Linked DNA regions of Homo sapiens: region 2 is linked to region 1. The links come from fine-mapping of genetic effects on gene expression. A gene starts in region 1. The other region holds a variant in brackets. All regions are shown on one strand. Distances are between the middles of the regions. Region 1 holds the start of KAT8 (lysine acetyltransferase 8). Region 2 has its middle 8.7 kb from the start of PRSS36.

Evidence for each region. PIP is the estimated chance that this variant, and not a neighbour inherited with it, causes the effect.
Region 2: its variant is fine-mapped to the expression of KAT8 in whole blood (TOPMed, PIP 0.96).

What each region holds. Positions count from the first base shown.
Region 1 is chr16:31,112,748-31,123,850 of GRCh38, reverse strand. It overlaps KAT8 (lysine acetyltransferase 8), which reads right to left and starts at 6,187. Exons shown (of 11, transcript NM_032188.3): 1 at 5,959-6,187; 2 at 3,591-3,665; 3 at 3,337-3,512. The coding sequence starts at 6,169. It overlaps BCKDK (branched chain keto acid dehydrogenase kinase), which reads right to left. Exons shown (of 12, transcript NM_005881.4): 12 at 11,060-11,103. RefSeq lists an enhancer at 5,604-5,723 and silencers at 5,894-6,243, 6,143-6,369.
Region 2 is chr16:31,153,195-31,164,297 of GRCh38, reverse strand. No RefSeq gene overlaps it. Among named protein-coding and RNA genes, the nearest start is that of PRSS36, 8.7 kb to the right of the region's middle. The variant G/A (reference allele first, on the strand shown) is at 4,445.

The DNA.
Region 1 (11,103 bases):
GTAGCCACTTGTCACATAGGGCTATTTAAAATTATACTCAGCTAAACGTGGTGGCTCACGCCTGTAATCCCAGCACTTTGAGAGGCCGAGGTGGGAGGACCACTTGAGGCCAGGAGTTCCAGACCAGTCTGGCCAACATGGCGAAACCCCATCTCTACTAAAAATAAAAAATAAAAAATAGCTGGGTGTGGTGGCACACGCCTGTAATCTCAGATACTTGGGAGGCTGAGGCACAAAAATTGCTTAAGCCAGGAAGGCGGAGGTTGCAGTAACCCAAGAGCTCGCCACTGTACTCCCGCCTAGGTGACAGAGTGAGACTCTGTCTCAAAAAATGAAAATTTTGGCTGGGCACGGTGGCTCACACCTGTAATCCCAGCACTTTGGGAGGCCGAGGCAGGCGGATCAGTTGAGGTCAGGAGTTTGAGGCCAAACATAGTGAAACCCTATCTCTACTAAAAATACAAAAATTAGCCAGGCATGATGGTGCGTGCCTGTAGTCCCAGCTACTTGGGAGGCTGCGGCAGGAAACTCACTTGAATCTGGGAGGCGGAGGTTGCAGTGAGCTGAGATCGCACCACTGCACTCCAGCCTGGTTAACAGAGTGAGACTCTGTCTCGAAAAAATAAAAATAAAATTTTTTTAAAAAATGATAATTAATTTTTTTTTGAGACAGTCTTGATCGGACACCCAGGCTGGATGGAGTGCAGTGGCATGATCTTGGCTGACTGCAACCTCCATCTCCTGGGCTCAAGCGATTCTCCTGCCTCAGCCTCCTAAGTAGCCGGGATTACAGGTGTGCACCACCACGCCCGGCTAATTTTTGTATTTTTAGTAGAGATGGGGTTTTGGCCATGTTGGCCAGGCTGGTCTCAATCCCCTGACCTTAAGTGATCCACCCACCTCCGCCTCCCAAAGTGTTGGGATTACAGGCGTGAGCCACTGCACCCATAATTTAAAAATTTTTTTTTTTTTGAGACGGAGTCTCACTCTGTCACCCAGGCTGGAGTGAGCCCAGGATCTCGGCTCACTACAAGCTCCACCTCCCGGGTTCACGCCATTCTCCTACCTCAGCCTCCCGAGTAGCTGGGACTACAGGTGCACGCCACCACGCCCGGCTAATTATTTTGTATTTTTCAGTAGAGATGGGGTTTCACCATGTTAGCCGGGATGGTCTCGATCTTCTGACCTGGTGATCCACCCACCTTGGCCTCCCAAAGTGCTGGGATTACAGGCGTAAGCCACCGCGCCCAGCTAAAATTCTTAATTCTTCGTCACACTAGACACATTTCAAGTGCTCAACAGCTACATGTGGCTAGTGGCTACGGTACTAGATAGTACAGCTATAGAACATTTCCATTACAATAGGAAGTTCGATTCGGCAGTTTAGACCTTGAGGAGTTCTTCCAGTTTAGGGTATTTCAATTTTTTAAATCACACCACAGTAGGAAGTACACTTGGCACTGTAACATGTCTGTATATACACACAAGTATGTGCTAGGATCATCGGGAAGGTAAGGCTGGAACAAGAGGAATCCTGCACACTTTTATTGGGTGTGAAATAAAAGCTTCTCAAAACAATACCTACACTTAATAAAGTGCAACACCCTGATTTTTCTATCTTATCCACTTTCTTTCTTCCATTTAAAGAAATTTAAATGTTGGGCTTGCCCACTAACTCATGTACTCAGAAGGATGAAGCTGCAATAGCTGAAAGTAACAAATGTCTGGGTGTCTGGAGACTTTGACAAATCTTGCTCTGGTGTGCACTCCTGATTTTTATAAATTTAGAAACTGAGACTTGGTCGGGCGCAGTGGCTCACACCTGTAATCCCAGCACTTTGGGAGGCTAAGGCAGGAGGATCGCTTGAGACCAGGAGTTTGAGACTAGTGTGGGCAACATAGCAGATCCCGTCTCTACAAAAAAATAAAAAATTAGCTGGGCATGGTGGCACGTGCCTATGGTCCCAGCTACTCAGGAGGCTGAGGCAGGAGGATTGCTTGAGCCCAGGAGGTTGAGGCTGAAGTGAGCCATGATTGTGCCACTGCACTCAGCCTAGACGATAGAGTAAGACGCTGTCTCAAAAAAAAAAAATAACAATAATATGTACAATTATTAAGTATCAATACAAGAAAAAACCAAGGCAGGTACAGGGATGCACTCCTGTAGTCCCAGCTACTTAGAAGGCTAAGGCAGGAAGAACATTTGAGCCCAGGAGTTCAAGTCCAGCCTGAGCAACACACCAAGACTCCCGTCTCTTAAGAAAAAAACCAAAATCATTGCTAAGGCCTCTGGCTCTGAGGTAGCACAATTTAGCTGGTTGATCAAATTCCTGTCTGGGTCCCTAAACTTATCTGTAGCTCTTCTGCATGCTTACTTCACAGGCCTACTGTGAAATGTCAGTGAGGTCATGTATTAAAACACTTAGCTTAGGCCGGGCGCAGTAGCTCACGCCTGTAATCCCAGCACTTTGGGAGGCCGAGGTGGGCAGATCACCTGAGGTCAGGAGTTCGAGACCAGCCTGACCAATATGGCGAAACCTCGTCTCTACTAAAAATACAAAAATTATCCGGGCGTGGTGGCAGGTACCTGTAGTCCTAGCTACTTGGGAGGCTGAGACAGGAAAATTGCTTGAACCCAGGTGGCGGAGTTTACAGTGAGCCGAGATCATTCCACTGTACTCCAACCTGGGCGACAGAGCAAGACTCCGTCTCAAAAAAAAAAACAAAAAACAAAACACACACACACACACACACACACACACACAAAAACCATTTAGCTGAATACTTCTGCTCACCGGCTAACAAGTGTTTGGCATTATTATTCTAATTCCAGCCCACCGTTTTACTGGCTGTGTGACCTTGGGCATGTTACTTAATCTCTCTCAGCCTGCTTCCTCACCTACCAAAAAAGTAACTATTCCTGTGTGTTGAATTGTTGGGAAGGATTTGAGGAGCTTATACATATACAGCACTTGGCAGGGTGCTTGGCTATAGCAACTGCCGAATAACATTCTCGTCTTTCCCACTGAACTTCAAGTCATTTTTTCTACTAAGACACAGCTACTAGGAGACAAAAGAGGCTACCAGTGCCGGAGGCCTGAGTTCTAGTCCCAGCTGTGCCATTTCCTTGCTGTGAGACTGCAGCGAAGCCCTTACCCTCTGTCTGTTTTCTTACCTATGAAAAGTAAGTAAGAGGAAGTAGGTAAAGTCCCTGACACACTACAGGAGCTTAAGAAATGGGATTTGCTATGGTTTTGGCACTGGGGCCCGAGAGACCCAAGGGAACTGGCAGAGAAGCTGGGCCTCCTGGGCCCGTGGATGGGAAGGGATCCGGACCTTCTGCACATGGTTGATCTCATCATGCTTGCGCTTTTGGTTGCGAGTGATCTTGCGCTCAGGCTGCTCTGCGAGCTCGCTCAGGTACTTCTCTGAGTTCTTCTGTACAGCATCCTTCACTGTCTTGGTCAGCGCCAGCCGGTTCTTGTCTACCCACTCGTCCAGCCGCCGGTTAACTGTAAGTATGGGCCATAAGAGTGCTGCCAGGGCAGCCAACTCCCTGCACCCACGCCCAGATGTGCCAAGCCACTCACAGCCCACGTAGTGTACATAGAATTCCTCTCGGCCCTCCTGGTCGTTCACTCGAGACTGGATCACTTCAGCAGAATCTGTGATGGAAAAAGGCTAGGGTCATCAGGAAGGTAAGGCTGGAACAAAAGGAATCCTGCACACTGAGAAGCAGTTTCCAGAGTTCAGGGCCACACATCAGCTAACCTCACTGGTCCACCTCTGCCATTCTACTCAATCACTGCCACAACTGTGAGGTGGATCAGGTTGAGGCTGTTATTCTCATTTTACGAATGAGAAAATAACTGGCTGGGTGTGTGGCTCACACCTGTAATCCCAGTACTTCTGGAGGCCGAGATGGGCAGATCACTTGAGGCCAGGAGTTTGAGACCAGCCTGGTCAACATGGCAAAACCCCATCTGTACCAAAAAGACGAAAAAAAAAAAAGCCAGGCATGGTGGCACACACCTGTAATCCCAACTACTCGGGAGGCTGAGGCAGGAAAATTGCTTGAACCTGGGAGGCAAGGCTGAGGCAGGAGAATTGCTTGAACCCGGGAGGCAGAGGTTGCAGTGAGCCGAGATTGTACCACTGCACTGTGGCCTGGGTGACAAGAGCAAGACTCTGTCTCAAAAAAAAGAACCCCAAAAAACAGAACAAAACTGAGGCTTACCTAGGGTCACAGATTTGAAAAGTGGTAAGAGCTAATACTTAACTGAATTTAAGTCTGACTCTAAATTCAATGCTCATTTTACCACATACCCGCAGTTGTTCATTTGTTCAGGGATCATGAGTGCTGGCTCTGGATTAAGATAACCTACATTAATGTATAATTCCAGGGCTGGGCATCGTGGCTCACGCCTGTAATCCCAGCACTTTGGGAGGCCGAGGTGGGTGAATCACGAGGTTAAGAGGTCAAAACCATCCTGGCCAACATGGTGAAACTTCGTCTCTACTAAAAATACAAAAATTAGCTGGGTGTGGTGGCGCACAACTGTAGTCCCAGCTACTCAGGAGGTTGAGGCAGGAGAATCGCTTGAATCCGGGAGGCAGAGATCGCAGTGAGCCAAGATGGCGCCACTGCACTCCAGCCTGGCAACAGAGAGCGATTCCATCTCAAACAAACAAACAAAAAAAAATACACAAAATTCCAGCTCCCTACTTCCTAGCTATGTGTAACTGAGCAAGTTATTCCATCTTTCTGAGCCTCAGTCTCTTCATCTGTGAAAAGGGATAACAGCTGGGCACAGTGGCTCATGCCAGTAATCCCAACACTCTGAGAGGGTGAGGTGGGAGGATCACTTGAGCCTAGAAGGTCTAGGCTTCAGTGAGCTGTCATCGTGCCACGGCAATCCCACCTGGGTGACAGAGCGAGATCCTGTCTCAAAAAAAAAAAAAAAAAAAAAGACAAAAGGGATAATAGTACCAACCTTAGAAGGTGAATTAATGCCTCCAAAATTTTTAGCAGCGCACCTGACAATTAGCAGAGCATTCAATAAATGAGTAAGGCAACCACTACGTGTCTGGCCCTATGCTGTGTTGTTGCCGGGTACAGAGGACACAGTGATGAATCACAAGAAGTGCTGCCCTCCAGAAGTTCCCAGTATGATGGAGGAAGACAGAGAGAGAAAATTACAACATAATGTTACAAAAACTATGACTGAGGTAGGAAAAAAATGTTGCAGGAACATAGAGAAGGGAACCACTCACTTTGCCTGAAGGGGAATCAAGGATGACATCACAAAGGATATGAAGCTAAGAGGATGAGTAGGAGCTAGGCAGGCAAACAAGGAGAAAGGGAAGAAAAAGCATTCCAAGCAAAGGGCACAGGTGGTAAAGGGCGTGTGGTCTTCAGAGGGCACAGTGTGTTCTGGCCTGGCAATGCCCTTTCCTAGTGTTGGCTAGAAACTGGAGAGGTCACAAAAATGAATGCCACCCTAAGGAGTTTGGGGTTAATTTTGAAAATGAGAGAAGGCAGCAGAACTTTAGGAAAGGGAAGCCTGTTGTTTCTGGAAGGTCTTCTCTCTGCGGATGGCTGCCAGGGACAAATGGAAAAAGAAGACGCAGAGACAAGAGAGGGTGAGGAAGCAGCGTTAGCAAGAAAAAGGAATGAAGCCTAAGACTGGGCAAGGAAGTGGAATGGGAACAATCCTGGTGAAGGCCTGAGCGGTGGGTTTGTAGGCGTCGCTCGGCATAATTCAAGGTCAACAGCCTCCCACAACCCGGCTGGTTTCTCAGCGCCCGGAACGCGGCGTTCTTTCCTCAAGCCCCGCCCCTCCTCCTCTCCACTCCCAGCCCCCGGATCTTGGCCTCACTGACAGCCTGTCCTCAGGCCCCGCCCCACCCCCTGGCCCTGAGCTCCGCCCCGCCCCCAGCCCTGGGCCCCGCCCTCACGCCAGGTGCTATCCGGTCGCCGGCACAGGTACGTTTCTCCGATCTCCACCGTGACTTCCGGCTCGCCGCGCGCCGGGGTCGGCGGAGAGACGCGGCCCGGGGATGGGGCGGTCCCCTCAGCGGCCGCATTCTCCCCGGGCCCGGGCTCGCCCTCCCCCGCGACCCCTGAAGTCCCCGCCGCAACCGCCGCAGCAGCTCCCTGTGCCGCCATCGCGGGAAGGGAAGTGACGCCAGAATCGGACGCCACGCAGTTCTTTTGGCTCCGGGTCAGCAGTGCGTGGGGCGGGCTCCTCAAGGTTTGAGGGCGGGGTCTGTGATGTAGCAGGAGCCGATTGGCTTCTGTGGCCGTCCCCGCGGCCCCGCGAGTTGGATGTTGAGTGTGCGGCAGTCTTGGAGCTCCTGGTTTTCCGTGCGGACCTGTGGCTGCAGCCTATGGGTGAGGAGAGGAGACAGACTTACCTCATGCGATGACTCAACTCAACCTTTTTTTAATTTATTTATTTATTTATTTATTTATTTATTTTGAGACGGAATCATGCTCTGTCGCCCAGGCTGGAGTGCAGAGGCGCGATCTCGGCTCACTGCAACCTCCGCCTCCGGGTTCAAGCGATTCCTCTGCCTCAGCCTCCCGGGTAGCTGGGACTGCAGGCGCGCGCCACCACGCCCATCTAATTTTTGTATTTTTAGTAGAGACGGGGTTTCACCATGTTGTCCAGGATAGTCTTGATCTCTTGACCTCGTGATCTGCCAGCCTCAACCTCCCAAAGTGCTGGGATTATAGGCGTGAGCCACCGTGCCCGGCCAGCTGAACCTTTTTAAAGGCCCTGGTACCTGCGGAAGCCAAGATGTGCCAATTTTCAGCGGGCGCTGCCCCCACTTTAACAGGGCAGAGCCAGAGCGGCCGCCCTGGTGGCCTGGAGCCGCACACTCGCGCTGGCCTAATGTCGCTCCCCGCCCCCCCCCCTTTTTTTTTTTTGAGATGGAGTCTCGCTCTGTCGCCCAGGCTGGAGTGCAGTGACGCGATCTCGGCTCACTGCAGCCTCCGCCTCCCGGGTTCAAGCGATTCTCCTGCCTCAGCCTCCTGAATAGCTGGGATTACAATCGCGCGCCACCACGCCCGGCTATTTTTTGTATTTTTAGTAGAGAGAGGGCTTCACCCTGTTGGCCAGGCTGGTCTCGAACTCCTGACCTCAGGTGATCCGCCCGCCTCGGCCTCCCAAAGTGCTAGGGTTACAGGCGTGAGCCACCGTGCCCAGCCAGTGCCCCATTTTTGAAGGTTGAAGAGACTACTTCCCCTATTTGGGATACAGTTGGTGCGGGGAAAGCAGAACGGGTGTGTCCAGGGACAGGCCATAATTCACCCTCACAGGATAAAGTCTAAAGAAAGGACGAGTTGGGCGGGGCGTGGTGGCTCACGCCTGTAATCTCAGCACTTTGAGAGGCCGAGGCGGGCGGAGATCGAGACCATCCTGGCTAACACCGTGAAACTCCGTCTCTACTAAAAATACAAAATTTAGCCGGGCGTGGTGGCACGCACCTGTAGTCCCAGCTACTCGGGAGGCTGAGGCAGGAGAATCGCTTGAACCCGGGAGGCGGAGGTTGCAGTGAGCCGAGATCCCGCCATTGCACTCCAGCCTGGGGACCAAGAGCCAGACTCCATCTCAAAAAAAATAAAAAGGCCGGGTGCGGTGGTTCACGCCTGTAATCCCAGCACTTTGGGAGGCCTAGGCGGGTGGATCACGAGGTCAGAAGATCGAGACTATTCTGGCTAACACGATGAAACTCCGTCTCTACTAAAAAAAAATACAAAACAATTAGCCGGGCGTGGTGGCGGGCCCCTGTAGTCCCAGCTACTCGGGAGGCTGAGGCAGGAGAATGGTGTGAACCCGGGAGGTGGAGCTTGCAGTGAGCTGAGATCACGCCACTGCACTGAGGGTTCTGTGAGAGTCAGTAAAGGTTAAAGCCATTTATATGTGTATGGTCCAACCATACACAATCGGCCCTCCATATCCGCATGTCCCACCTTTGGAGATTGAACGAAGAGCGGGTTGAAAATACAGTGTTGAGGTATGGTGGCTCACACCTGTAATCTCGCACTTCAGGAATCCAAGCAGGAGGATCGCTTCAGGCCAGGAGTTCAAGACCAGCCTGGGCAGCATAGAGACCTCCTTTCTACTAAAAATTTGGGGGAAAAAAAAAATTAGCTGGGCCTCGGGGCCCGCACCTGTAGTCCCACCTACTCAGGAGGCTGAGGCAGAGGGATCGCTTAAACCCAGGAGGTCGAGGCTGAGTGAGCTATAATCCCTCCACTGCACTCCAGCTTGGGTGACAGAGACCCTGTCTCAAAAAAAAAGGGGGGAAAGAAAAGGAGGCTGGGCGCAGTGGCTCACTCCTGTAATCCCACCACTTTGGGAGGCCGAGGCAGGCAGATCACCTGAGGTCGGGAGTTCGAGACCAGCCTGACCAACATGGAGAAACCCCATCTCTACTAAAAATACAAAATTAGCCAGGCGTGGTGGCCGCATGCCTGTAATCCCAGCTACTCGGGAGGCTGAGGCAGGAGAACCGCTTGAACCTGGGAGGCAGAGGTTGTGGTGAGCTGAGATTGTGCCATTGCACTCCAGCCTGGGCAACAAGAGTGAAACTCTGCCTCAAAAAAAAAAAAAAAAAGACTGGGCGCGGTGGCTCACACCTGTAATCCCAGCACTTTGGGAGGCCGAAGCAGGTGGATTACTTGAGGTCAGGAGTTCAAAACCAGCTTGGCCCACATTGTGAAACCCCGTCTCTACTGAAAATACAAAACAGTCAGGGGTGGTGGCGTGTGCCTGTAATCCCAGCTACTTGGGAGGCTGAGGCAGGAGAACTGCTTGAACCCAGGAGGTGGAGGTTGCAGTGAGCCGAGATCGCGCCACTGCACTCCAACCTGGCCGACACAACAAGACTCCATCTCAAAAAAGAAAAAGAAAAAAGAGGGAGGAAGGGAGGAAAAGAAAAGGAAAGGAAAGGAAATATTGTAAGGATGCAGAACCCACAGATCTGAAGAGCTGACTTCATATCTGCTGTTTGGCAGGGCCAACTGTAGGACTTGAGCGCCTGCAGATTTCGGTATTCACAGGCGGTCCTGGAACCAATCCCCAGCAGTTAAGCATGTATAACTATCAATCATATAACTATGTAACGGTTGAACTATCCGTCTTAGCAATATACAAGTGTATTGCAAAGTGCCAGACCGGGTAGGTACTCAGTAAACATTCCCTTTGGCTATTCTCTGAATCTTGTTTGATTTATAATGTGGTTATTGGGCTTGGAAACAATTCTGAGAGGAGTGGAATGCTCAGGGCCTGCGGATGGGTCTCTCAGAGGTTACAAATCAAGAAACATCCGACAGGCATGGTGGCTCATGCCTGTAATCCTGGCACTTTGGGAGGCTGAGGTGGATGGATCACGAGGTTGGGAGTTCGAGACCAGCCTGGCCAACGTGGTGAAACCCCATCTCTACTAAAAATAGAAAAATTAGCTGGGTGTGGTGGCACGCGCCTGTAATCCCAGCTACTCGGGAGGCTGAGGCAGGAGAATCGCTTGAACCTGGGGTTGGGGGGGGGTGGGGCGGAGGTTGCAGTGAGCGAAGATCCAGCCACTGCACTCCAGCCTGAGCAACAGATTGAGACTCCGTTTAAAAAAACAAAACGAAACAAAACAAACAAAAAAACAATGTAGGTGCTCCACCCAGATCCTCTGGGAGTTCTTGCTGTTTCTGTGTGCCCAGATTACCTTTGATGTGCTTTCAAAGACCCACACCAGCACCTGAGGCTCTTCTTAAAAAACCATCCTTAGGTTAATAGAGCTGTTCACTTTCCCAACTGACTTTAACCAGTGACTGCCAAGTGGAGAAATTAATCAGTAACTCTGAGGTTTAGCTCTCTTACCTTCAACCCTGAGGCATAATTGACTGGTTCTGGGCTTTTGCCTGAGGTCACATCCTTGCTTGGCTTCCTCCCCTTCCCCTTCCTACTTCCCCTACTCTGTTCTGGGAGCACTTTCTTAAGAAATCACGTGGACATGAATCCTCTCAGGGACTCCAACCAGAAACATCCCTTCCCAGCTCAAAACCCACTCATGGGCCAGCTGCAGTGGCTCATGCCTGTAACCCCACCACTTTGGGAGGCTGGGGTGGAAGGATCATTTGAGCCCAGAAGTTCAAGTCCAGCCCGGGGCAACATAGGGCTTTGTAGAAACCCTGTTTCTACAAAAAATTTTAAAATTTAGCCTGGCATGATGGTCCAAGCTACTCAGAAGGCTGAGGTGGGAGAATCTCTTGATCCCAGGAGTTCAAGGCTGCAGTGAACTCTGCAGCCACCATATTCCAGCCTGGGCAACAGAGCAAGACCCCATTTCTAAATAAATAAAAACTCACCCATGGATCCCTATGGCTCAAGATAAATCCCATGTTTCAGGGCCCTGGCCTCTGACTGCTGCCTGCCTCTCCAGCCTCAGCACCCTGCCTTGCAGCTGGCGGGATTTTTCAGTCTAGCAAGTCACTGTGGTTTCCTAGCCCCTGCCATTTGGCTTCCACATACAACTTCCCCTCCATCCCCGTGAAGGGTAGGAGATGGTACAGGCCTAGAGCCAGCCTCAGGAAGTTTGCTGTGGGAGCTCACATGTGAAGGCAAGAGAACTTTCCAGTTCTCCTCCCAGCCCCACCAGGCCGCCCTTAGGCCTTTCTTCCCTGGCAAGGTGGGTAGGGTGTTCCTACCTAAGATGTCATCTGGAGTTCTGATTCAGGTCTAACCTTGAGCCTACCTGATATCTTTGCCCAAATCCTTGGTCCTTTCTATCAGGGCCCCACCTTTCCTTGCAGTGGGGCACCCAGTCCCTGCTAGGGCCTGCCAAGGCACAACCTTGTATGTTCTTTTCCTTGGCAGCAGCAGACACAGTATTTTTAACCTACTCAGGCTTGGGAAGCAGTTGGCTCAGGAGTTTGCCCAGTCTGGTGACCTTCACCTCTAGAAACTGTGACTGCCAGGAAAGGAAGAGTCAAAACTGATGCCCGAAGCTGGGTCAGTCTGGGCCTTCAATATTATCTGGGACCCGGAAACATTTGTTCAACAAGATGAATGAAAGCTCTTTGTATAAGGTGCTGCAGTC
Region 2 (11,103 bases), 40 kb before region 1:
TCACCTGAGGTCGGGAGTTCGAGACCAACCTGGCCAACATGGTGAAGCCCCGTCTCTACTAAAAATACAAAAAAATTAGCCATGTGTGGTGGCAGGTGCTTGTAATCCCAGCTCCTCAGGAGGCTGAGGCAGGAGAATCGCTTGAACCCTGGAGGCAGAGGTTTCAGTGAGCTGAGAATGCTCCATTGCACGCCAGCCTGGGCAATGAGTGAAACTCCATCTCAAAAAAAAAAAAAAATTAACAAGATGCTGAGCATGGTGGTGCATGCCTGTAATCCCAGCAAATTAGAAAGCTGAGGTGGGAGGATGGCTTGAGCCCAGGACTTGGAGATGAGCCTGGGCAACATAGTGAGACCATCTTGCCCCCGATTTTAAAAATAATAATTAAAATAAAAAGGCTGTGGGAAAACATTATGTAATAAAGCTGGAAGATTTCCTTCTCATTTGAGAAGGGGTCTGTTTGTTTGTTTTATAGAGACGGTCTTGCTGTGTTGCCCAGGCTGGTCTGGAACTCCCAGACTCAAGCAATCCTCATGCATCAGCCTCCTGAAGTGCTGGGATTACAGGCATGAGACACCACGCCCAGCCTCAGAGGGTTTTTTAGGTTGTTTTGTTGTTTTTTTTTGTTTGTTTTGTTTTTTGACACGGAGTCTCCCTCTGTTGCCCAGGCTGGAGTGCAGTGGGGTGATCTCAGCTCACAGCAACCTCCACCTCCCAGGTTCAAGCCTCAATTCTCCTGCCTCAGCCTCCTGAGTAGCTGGGATTACAGGCATGCGCCACCACGCTTGGCTAATTTTTGTATTTTTAGTAGAGACGGGTTTTCACCATGTTGGCCAGGCTGGTCTCAAACTCCTGACCTCGTGATCCACCCACCTCGGCCTTCCAAAGTGCTGGGATTACAGGTGTGAGCCACCGCGCCCAGCTGTTTTTCTTTTTTTTTAAGACAGAGTTTTCGTTCTTGTTGCTCAGGCTGGAGTGCAATGGCACGATCTCGGCTCACTGCAAACTCTGCCTCCTGGGTTCAAGCGATTCTCCTGCCTCAGCCTCCCAAGTAGCTGGGATTACAGGCATGCACCGCCACACGCAGCTACTTTTGTATTTTTAGTAGAGATAGGGTTTCTCCATGTTGGTCAGGCTGGTCTCAAACTCTTGACCTCAGGTGATCCGCCCCCCTCAGCCTCCCAAAGTGCTGCGATTACAGGCGTGAGCCACTGCGCCCAGCCTCAGAGGGTTTTTTAACCTGATGATGCGTATCGAAATAGGAAGACATTTTTATTAGTAAATTTGACTTTAGTATTTTTAGGTGAATATGTGTTTTTTCTCCGTGGTGGCAGAAGAAGAAACACATTATCGGATCGCCAAAAAACCTAACCATGAAAGAGTGTAAAATTGGAGAAACAGATATGGTTTACTTTAGTCTACCAGGGACAATTATGTGGCTGTTTGTGTAACATAATTGTTACTTGCTACTTTTTCTGTGGCTGACGATATGCAAAACTCTCTGGGCCAGTACAAAAATTGTGCGAAATTTACCAATGGCTGGAAGCAGTGGCTCACGCCTGTAATCCCAACACTTCAGGAGGCAAAGGTGGGAGGATTCCTTGAGGCCAGGAGTTCAAGACCAGCCTCAGCAACATAGCAAGACCCCCATCTCTACAAAAAATGTAAAAACCTAGCTGGGCGTGGTGGCATCCAAGTAGTCCCAGCTACTCTGGAGGCTAAAATACAAAATTACTAAAATACGAAATACTACATTACTAAAATACAGAATTACTGAAAATACAAAATTAGCCAGGCATGGTGGCCAGGGACTGCTTCAATTTCTCTGCCTTCTCTTTGTCAATGATGACCAGGGTATAAAGGTATCTGCTGCATCGAACTTTAAACTTCACATTGTCCTTATTTTTCTTTTTTTTTCTTTTTTTTCTTTTTTTTATTTTGAGACAGAGTTTTGCTCTTATTGCCCAGGCTAGAGTGCAGTGGTGCAATCTCGGCTCACTGCAACCTCCGCCTTCCAGTTTCAAGCGATTCTTCTACCTCAGCCTCCCAAGTCGCTGGGATTACAGGTGCCCGCCACCATGTCCAGCTAATTTTTTGTATTTTTAGTAGAGACGGGGTTTCACCATGTTGGTCAGGCTGGTCTTGAACTGCTGACCTCGTGATCCACCCGCCTAGACCTCCCAAAGTGCTGGGATTACAGGCATGATCCACCGTGCCCGGCGCATTGTCCTTATTTTTCTTGATCTTGACAGATTTGGCATCCTTTTGTCGGGCTGTGAGCAGAAAGACCTTGATTTCCTCAATTTTCTGAGGCATGGCAACAAGGAACACAGGGAGCAGGCGGGGACCGGGACAGTGAGCAGCGACCAAGGAGAGCTTGAGTTTATTATAAGAGCCTAGAGCCGCCACAGAGACTTTTAAGCAGGGACAAACACTTTTTTTTCTTTTTTTGAGATTGAGTTTCACTCTTGTTGCTCAGGCTGGAGTGCAGTGGCGCGATCTCGGCTCCCTGCAACCTCCGCCTCCCAGGTTCAAGCGATTATCCTGCCTAGCCTCCCGAGTAGCTGGGATTACAGGTGCCTGCAACCACACCTGGCTAATTTTTTTTTCTTTTTCTTTTCTTTTTTTTTTTTTTCTGAGACAGAGTCTTACTCTGTTACCAGGGCTGGAGTGCAGTGGCACAATCTCAGCTCACTGCAACCTCCACCTCCCAGGTTCAAGCAGTTCTCCTGCCTCAGCCTGGGATTACAGGCGCCTGCCACTACCAAACACCCAGCTAATTTTTTGTATTTTTAGTAGAAAGGGGGTTTCACCATGTTGGCCAGGCTGGTCTCGACCTCCTGACCTCATGATTTGCCCACCTTGGCCTCCCAAAGTGCTGGGATTACAGGCGTGAGCCACCTCATCTAGCCCGGAGTTTCACTCTTGTTGCCCAGGCTGGAGTGCAATGGCGCGATCTTGGCTCACTGCAACTTCTGCCTCCTGGGTTCAAGCGATTCTCCTGTCTCAGCCTCCTTAGTAGCTGGGATCACAGGTGCCCGCCACCACTCCCAGCTAATTTTTTGTATTTTTAGAAGAGATGGTGTTTCACTATGTTGGCCAGGCTGCTCTTGAACTCCAGACCTCAGGCAATCCACCCGCCTCGGCCTCCCAAAGTGCTGGGATTACAGGCGTGAGCCACCACTCCCTGCTAATTTTTTGTACTTTTTTTTAAGTAGAGACAGGGTTTCACCATATTGGCCAGTCTGGTTTCAAACTCCTGACCTCAGATGATCACCCACCTCAGCCTCCCAAACTGTTGGGATTACAGGCGTGAGCCACCACGCCTGTCCGTGTCCCTGTGTGTTTGATTAAACTAATCTCAATGGGTTTTCATTATCTAAACAGCTTCCCCTCTCATACGCATTCTCGTTTCAGATGTTCAGAATTCAGAAAATACAAACAACCTGCAGGAGAAATGGCTGCTCAGCTTGAGTACCTGAGGTCCTGCAACACCCCACCTCCTTTGTTTTCCAGAGGGGTTCAGAAAGCTCGCTGTGCTCAGGCCTCCAAGTCAGGGCCATAAGCCTTGTTGCCTCCAGCCATGACTCAAAAACCTCGCCCTCACCCCCATCCCATCCTGACCTCCTCTCTTGCCCCCAAGAGCTCTCCCGGACCCCATACAGTTTATGCAGGAGCACCCCAAAACTGCTCCCCTCAGAAGCAGGAGGACGTCTCTCTCCCAGCAATGAGCTGCCACCTCCTCAGACTCCAACTCGGATTGTTCTCTCTGTGTCTCAGGAACCACCCTCCAAATTGCATACAATGGCCAGGCACGGTGGCTCATGCCTGTCATCCCAGCACTTTGGGAGGCTGAGGCAGGTGGATAACCTGAGCTCAATAGTTCAAGACCAGCCTGGCCAACATAGTGAAACCCCGTCTCTACTAAAAATACAAAAATTAGGGCCAGGCACGGTGGCTCACACCTGTAATCCCAGCGCTTTGGGAGGCCAAGGTGGGCGGATCACCTGAGGTTGGGAGTTCGAGACCAACCTGGCCAACATGGAGAACCCCTGTCTCTGCTAAAAAATACAAAATTAGCTGGGCGTGGTGGCACATGCCTGTAATCCCAGCTACTCGGGAGGCTGGGGCAAGAATCACTTGAACCCGGGAGGCAGAGGTTGCGGTGAGCTGAGATCATGCCATTGCACTCCAGCCTGGGCGACACAGCGAGACTCCATCTCAAAAAAAAAAAAAAATTCTATACAGTGCATCTCACAAAGTGAGGTCCCTTTGAAGTAGGGCAACTCATTTGAGGCTAAAGCGCTGAGTCCTGGGGCAATCTCTGGCTCCGACAGGCTCAGGGTACCAGCATGGTCCCTGGAGACCAAGAGGTGGGTGGGGAGGTGGGGGCAGAGTCTGGGAGTGAAATTGAAGGAGCAGTTACTCTTCTTGCCACGAGAGG[G/A]AGCACCAAGGGGATGTCTTGATCATATCAGTCAAGCGTGGAGTCAACACACAACATGTTCCCAATTTTATCAAGTCTCTCAAATATTCCCACTCAGAGGGTCCCTCATAGAATAACATTCTAACTCCAAGTTTTTTCTGAGAACAAGTTATTTCTGGCCAGGCGAAGTGGCTCATGTTTGTAATCCCAACACTTTGGGAGGCCAAGGCGGGCAGATCTCCTGAGGTCAGGAGTTCAAGACCAGCCTGGCCAACAGGGTGAAACCCCGTCTCTAAAATACAAAATTGTAAAATACAATTTTGTATTTAAAATACAATACTCTATCGTATTTAAAATACTCCAGAATACAAAATTGTAAAAATACAAAATTAGCTGGGAGTGGTGGTATACACCTGTAATCCCAGCTACTGGGGAGGCTGAGGCAGGAAAATCACTTGAACCCAGGAGGTGGAGGTTGCAGTGAGCCAAGATCGTGCCATTGCACTCTAGCCTGGGCAACAAGAGCAAAACTCCGTCTCAAAAAAAAAAAAAGTTATTTCTTCCAAGCAGATATGCAACAATATAGTGACTTAGCAAGATAATATTATGGAATAGGGAACAGGGTTGCCAGGTTTAGCAAAAAATTTTATTTTACTCCTTTTTTATTTTACAAAAAAATTTTGTACAAACGGGGTCTATGTTACGTTGCCCAGGCTGGTCTCGAACTCCTAGACTCAAGTAATCCTCACACCTCAGCCTCCTGAAGTGCTGGGATTATAGGCATGAGCCACCACTCCCAACCAGATTTAGCAAATAAAATAAGTGCCCGATTAAATCTGAATTTCAGGTAAACACAAATAATTTTTTTTTAAGACAGGGTCTTGCTCTGTCACCCAGGCTGGAATGCAATGGTGCAATCATAGCTCACTGCAGTTTCGAACTCCTGGTCTCAAGTGATCCTCCTGCCTCAGCCTCCCAGACCACTGGGATTACAGACGTGAGCCCTGTGCCTATTGGAAACACAAATAATTTTTTTTTGAGATAGGGTCTGGTTCTGTTGCCCAGGCAGGAGTGCAGTGGCATGGCTCACTGCAACCTCTGCCTCCTGGGCTCAAGCCATCCTCCCACCTCAGCCTCCCAAGTAGCTCCCAAGTGCACACCACCACATCCAGCTATTTTTTTTTTTTTTTGAGACGGAGTCTCGCTCTGTCACCCAGGCTGGAATGCAGGGGCGCTATCTCAGCTCACTGCAAGCTCTGCCTCCTGGGTTCGCGACATTCTCCTGCCTCAGCCTCCCGAGTAACTGGGACTACAGGTGCCCGCCACCATGCCCGGCTAATTTTTTTGTATTTTCTTTTTAGCAGAGACGGGGTTTCACTGTGTTAGCCAGGATGGTCTCAATCTCCTGACCTCGTGATCCGCCCGCCTCAGCCTCCCAAAGTGCTGGGACCACAGGCTTGAGCCACCACGCCTGGCCCACATCCAGCTAATTTTTTAAAAAACTCTTTGTAGAGATGGGGTCTCACTATATTGCCCAGGCTGATCTTAAACTCCTGAGCTCAAGCAGTCCACCTGCCTCAGCCTCCCAAAGTGCTGGGATTACAGGTGTGAGCCACTTCACTTGGCCCGACAAATAATTTTCAATATAACTCAAGTATTTCCTGAGACCTAGTTATAGTAAAAAAAAAAAAAATCGTTTATCTCAAATTCAGACTGAGCTAAGTATTCTGTATTTTAGCAGGCACTCCAAAAGGAGTGACACGTGCTTTAAGAGTTTTATACACCAGCTGGGTGTGGTGGCTCACGCCTATAATCCCAGCACTTTGGGAGGCTGAGGCGGACAGATCACCTGAGGTCAGGAGTTGGAGACCAGCCTGCCCAACATGGCGAAACCCCATCGCTATTAAAAATACAAAAAAATTAGCCGGGCATGGTGGTGGACACCTGTAATCCTAGCTACTCAGGAGGCTGAGGCAGGAGAATCACTTGAACCCGGGAGGCAGAGGTTGCAGTAAGCTGAGATCGCAACACTGCACTCCAGCCTGGGGGACAAAAGCAAAACTCCGTCTCAAAAAAAAAAAGAGTTTTACAAACCAAATGTTTGCAGTGGCTGCGCTCACGCCTGTAATCCCAACACTTTAAGAGACTGAGACGGGTGGATCACTTGAGGTCAGGAGTTCAAGATTAGCCTGGCCAACATGATGAAACCCTGTCTCTACTAAAAATACAAAAATTCGCTGGGCATGATGGTGGGCACTTGTAATTCGAGCTACTTGGGAGGCTGAGGCAGGAGAATCACTTGAACCCAGGAGGCAAAGGCTGCAGTGAGTGGAGATTGCACCACTGCACCCCAGCCTGAGCAACAGAGTGAGACTCCGTCTCAAATAAAAAATGAAAATAAAATGCAGCTTTCTCTGTCATGGCACCCATTCTGGTGTGCATGAGGACAGACAGCCCAGATTATTTTTCGAGGAGACATGTGGCCCTGCCCACAGTATATTCCACAGAACAGCCCTGACCAGAAGTGGAGTGACTCCCAGCTTCTGGCTTCCTCTTTTCACGATGAGATGCGGCACTGCTGGGCTTCGCTGGTGTGGAGCGCGTGCGGCTGTGTGCTTGAGCTGTGAAACAGTCTTCTGCTCCCTCTGGTCAGCACCTTTGGAAAGTGTGGTGAGAGCAACAATACTATCAAGGATTATCTGAAGAATGCCTTTTTTTGTAGGTCAGTGATAACCAGACATTTTAGTGACAAAGCCAATTCAGAAAAAAAGTAACCTGTTACCAAAATCCTTTAAAAAACATGATCTCTTTTATCAGGAAACATAATATCAACATCTTTGGTTAAGCATGCTTTTCTTGTTTTTCCAAATGCTGAAGGGTTTCATTATTTTAGCTAAGCTTTCAGAAACAACATTACACACATGCCCTGGTGTTATCGGATGTAAAGCTGCACATTTTCCCAACGTTTTTGGTCCAGGAAAGCATTTCTGGAGCTAGTTCGTTTGGCTTTTTCTTAATTGACTCTGGAATCCATTTATTTGCAAAGTGTGTTTTGCCTCTTTTAATTTCTTTTTACTCATGTGGAATAACCATATAGTTTTTTTTTTCTTTCCTTCTTTCTTTCTTTTCTTTTCTTTTTTTTTTTTTTTTCTTTTTTGAGACAGAGTCTCGCTCTGTCACCCAGGCTGGAGTGTAGTGGTGCAATCATAGCTCGTTGCAGCCTCGACCTCCTGGGCTTAAGTGAACCTTCTACCTCAGCCCGAGTAGCTGGGACTACAGGTGCATGCCACCATGCCTGGCTAATTTTTATTTTATTTTATTTATTTTGGGGACGGAGTTTTGCTCTTGTTGTCCAGGCCGGAGTGTAATGGCACGATCTCAGCTCACTGCAACCTCTGCCTCCTGGATTCAAGTGATTCTCCTGTTTCAGCCTCCCAGGTAGCTGGGATTATAGTCATGCACCACCATGCCCAGCTAATTTTGTATTTTTTTTTTTTTTTTAGTAGAGACAGGGTTTCACTGTGTTGGTCAGGTTGGTCTTGAACTCCCAACCTCAGGGGATATACCCGCCTTGGCCCCACAAAGTGCTGGGATACAGGTGTAAACTTTTTTTTTTTTTTTTTTTTTTAGAGATGGGGTCTCATTATGCTGCCCAAGCTAGTCTCAAAACTCCTGGGCTCAAGAGATCCTCCCACCTCAGCATCTCTAGCTAAGTTCATAGAGAGTCCTGATCTTAAGGGTACGGCTCAGTGAAACTCTGCATGTGTATATTCCTGTGTATATACACACCTACATCAAGATCTAGAACTTTCTTGCACTCTAGCAAGTTTCTCTGTGCTCCTTCCCACATAATATAATACTTCCACCAGAAGCAACCACTATTCTGATTCCTTTTTTTTTTTTTTTTTTTTTTTGAGATGGAATCTTGCTCTGTCACCCAGGCTGGAGTGCAGTGGTGCTATCTCGGCTCACTGCAACCTCCGCTTCCCAGGTTCAAGCGATTCTTCTGCTTCAGCTTCCTGAGTAGCTGGGATTACAGGCATGTGCCACCACACCCGGCTAATTTTTGTGTTTTAGTAGAGACAGGGTTTCACTGTGTTGGCTAGGCTGGTCTTGAACTCCTGACCTCAAGTGATCCGCCTGCCTCAGCCTCCCAAAGTGCTGGGATTACAGGTGTGAGCCACCGTGTCCGGCCACTATTCTGACTTCTACCACTGGGGATTAGTTATGCTTGTTCCTAAATTGCATATAATTGGAATCATGCAATATGACACATATTTGTTGAAAAAAAAATCTGTAAGATTCATCCATGTTGTTGCAGATATCAGTAATTCATTCTTTTTTATTGCTGCATAGTATTTCAGTGTATGACTATGCCACAATTTATCAATTTTCCTGGGGCCGGACATTTATGTTCTGGATCTTGGCTCTTGTATCTAGACCTTCTATGAGTGCCATGCTCTGCATATGCCTTATGGCACCCTCATTTCTCTTAGGTCTATACCTAGGATCTTGATTGTTGGGTCAAAATACAGGCATATGTTTAGCTTTCGTCTATTCTGCCAGTTATCTTTTCTTAATTTTTATTTTTAGGAATAGAGATGAAGTTTTCACTATGTTTTCCAGGCTGGTCTCAAGCTCCTGAGCTCAAGTGATGCTCTCGCCTCAGCCTCCCAAAGTGCTGGGATTACAAGGCATGAGCCACTGCGCCTGGTCTTTTTTTTTTTTTTTTTTTTTGAGACGGAGTCTCACTCTGTCGCCCAAGCTGCAGTGCAGTGGTGTGATCTCAGCTCATTGCAACCTCCGCCTCCCAGGTTCAAGCGATTCTCCTGCCTCAGCCTCCCGAGTAGCTGAGATTACAGGCGCCTGCCACCATGCCCGGCTAATTTTTTGTATTTTTAGTAGAGACGTGCCTAAGTTTTGTAATTTTAGTAGAGACGGGGTTTCACTGTGTTGGCGAGGCTGGTCTCGAACTCCTGACCTCAAGTGATCTGCCCACCTCAGCCTCCCAAAGTGCTGGGATGGATTACAGACGTGAGCCACCACACCCGGCCCCGTGCCAGACTTCTAATCTTTGAAATTGTAACATAATAAGTTGGTATTGTTTTAATCCACTGAGTATATGGGAATTTGTTACATCAGCAATGGAAAACTAATATACTAGTTCACCTATCATTTCCCCCTCCACTAGTCAGACCAGTAGAGAACTGCGTATGTATCACCTTTCTTACCCAGAGGCACCACCCACATATCCTTATTTTATTGACTGTGGTTTGTTTATGGTGTCATAGGCTGAAATTAAGCAGCACTATAAAAATCAACCTTAGGCATGGTGACACATGCCTGGAGTCCCAGCTACTCAGGAGACTGACATGGGAGAATCGATTGAGCCCAGGAGCTCGAGGCTGCAGTGAGCTATGACCATGCCACTGCACTCCAGCCTGGGTGACAGAGTGAGTCTCCATCTCTAAAAAAAAAAAAAGGCTGGGCATGGTGGTTCATGCTTGTAATCCCAGCACTTTGTGAGGCCAAGGCACGCAGATCACCTTAGGTCAGGAATTTGAGACCAGCCTGGCCAACATGGTGGAAACCCGTCTCCACTAAAAATACAAAATTAGCAGGGCATGGTGGTGGGCTCCTGTAATCCCAGCTACCCGGGAGGCTGAGGCAGGAGAATCACTTAAACCTGGGAGGTGGAGGTTGCAGTGAGCCGTGATCATGCCATTGCACTCCAACCTGGGCAAAAAGAGCGAAACATCATCTCAAAAAAAAAAAAAAAAAAAAAAAAAAAACCTCATGAAACTATTTGCTGTTTTTCACATGATGTTGTTAAGAAAGATTTTATTATACCCAAGTAAAGAGACATGATCTCCCAACCAGAATGGACTCGAACTCCTGGGCCCAAGGGATCCCCCCACCTCAGCCTCCAGAGTAGCAGGGACTACAGGCATGCACCGGCACACCTGGCTCCTCCAAGGAGAAATTTATTTTCTGTCCTTGAACCTGGAAGAGAGAGACTCCTGCTTGAGCTTCCCTCCTTACCTTGGCTGCTAGTTGCAATCAAGGGCATCTTAGAGTGGTGAAACCATAAGAATCACCTGGGCAGCTTTTGCAAACTGCACTTGCTCCTCCAGAAATTCCAATCTGTCTCCCTACAAGAAAATGTTCTCCTTCCTCCCATAAGATCCATTGCTTTGGCGAGCCTCTGTGCTATTTATTTTTTTATACTTATTTATTTATTTATCTATTTATTTTTGAGATGGAGTTTTGCTCTTGTTGCCCAGGCTGGAGTGTAATGGTGCAATCTCAGCTCACTGCAACCTCTGCCTCCCGGGTTCAAGCGATTCTCCTGCCTCAGCCTCCCAAGTGGCTGGGATTACAGGCATCCACCACCACACCCGGCTAATTTTTTGTATTTTTAGTAGAGACGGGATTTCACCATGTTGGCCAGGCTGGTCTCGAACTCCTCACCTGAGGTGATACACCTGCCTCGGCCTCCCAAACTGCTAGGATTACAGGCGTGAGCCACCGCGCCTGGCCAACGTCTGTGCTATTTAGCAGAGCAAGTCCTACTCCTCATGTCTGCTGGGTTGGGGAAAGGGTTAAGAATCATTGTCTTGGCTGGGCACGGTGGCTCATGCCTGTAATCCCAGCACTTTGGGAGGCCGAGGCAGGTGGAT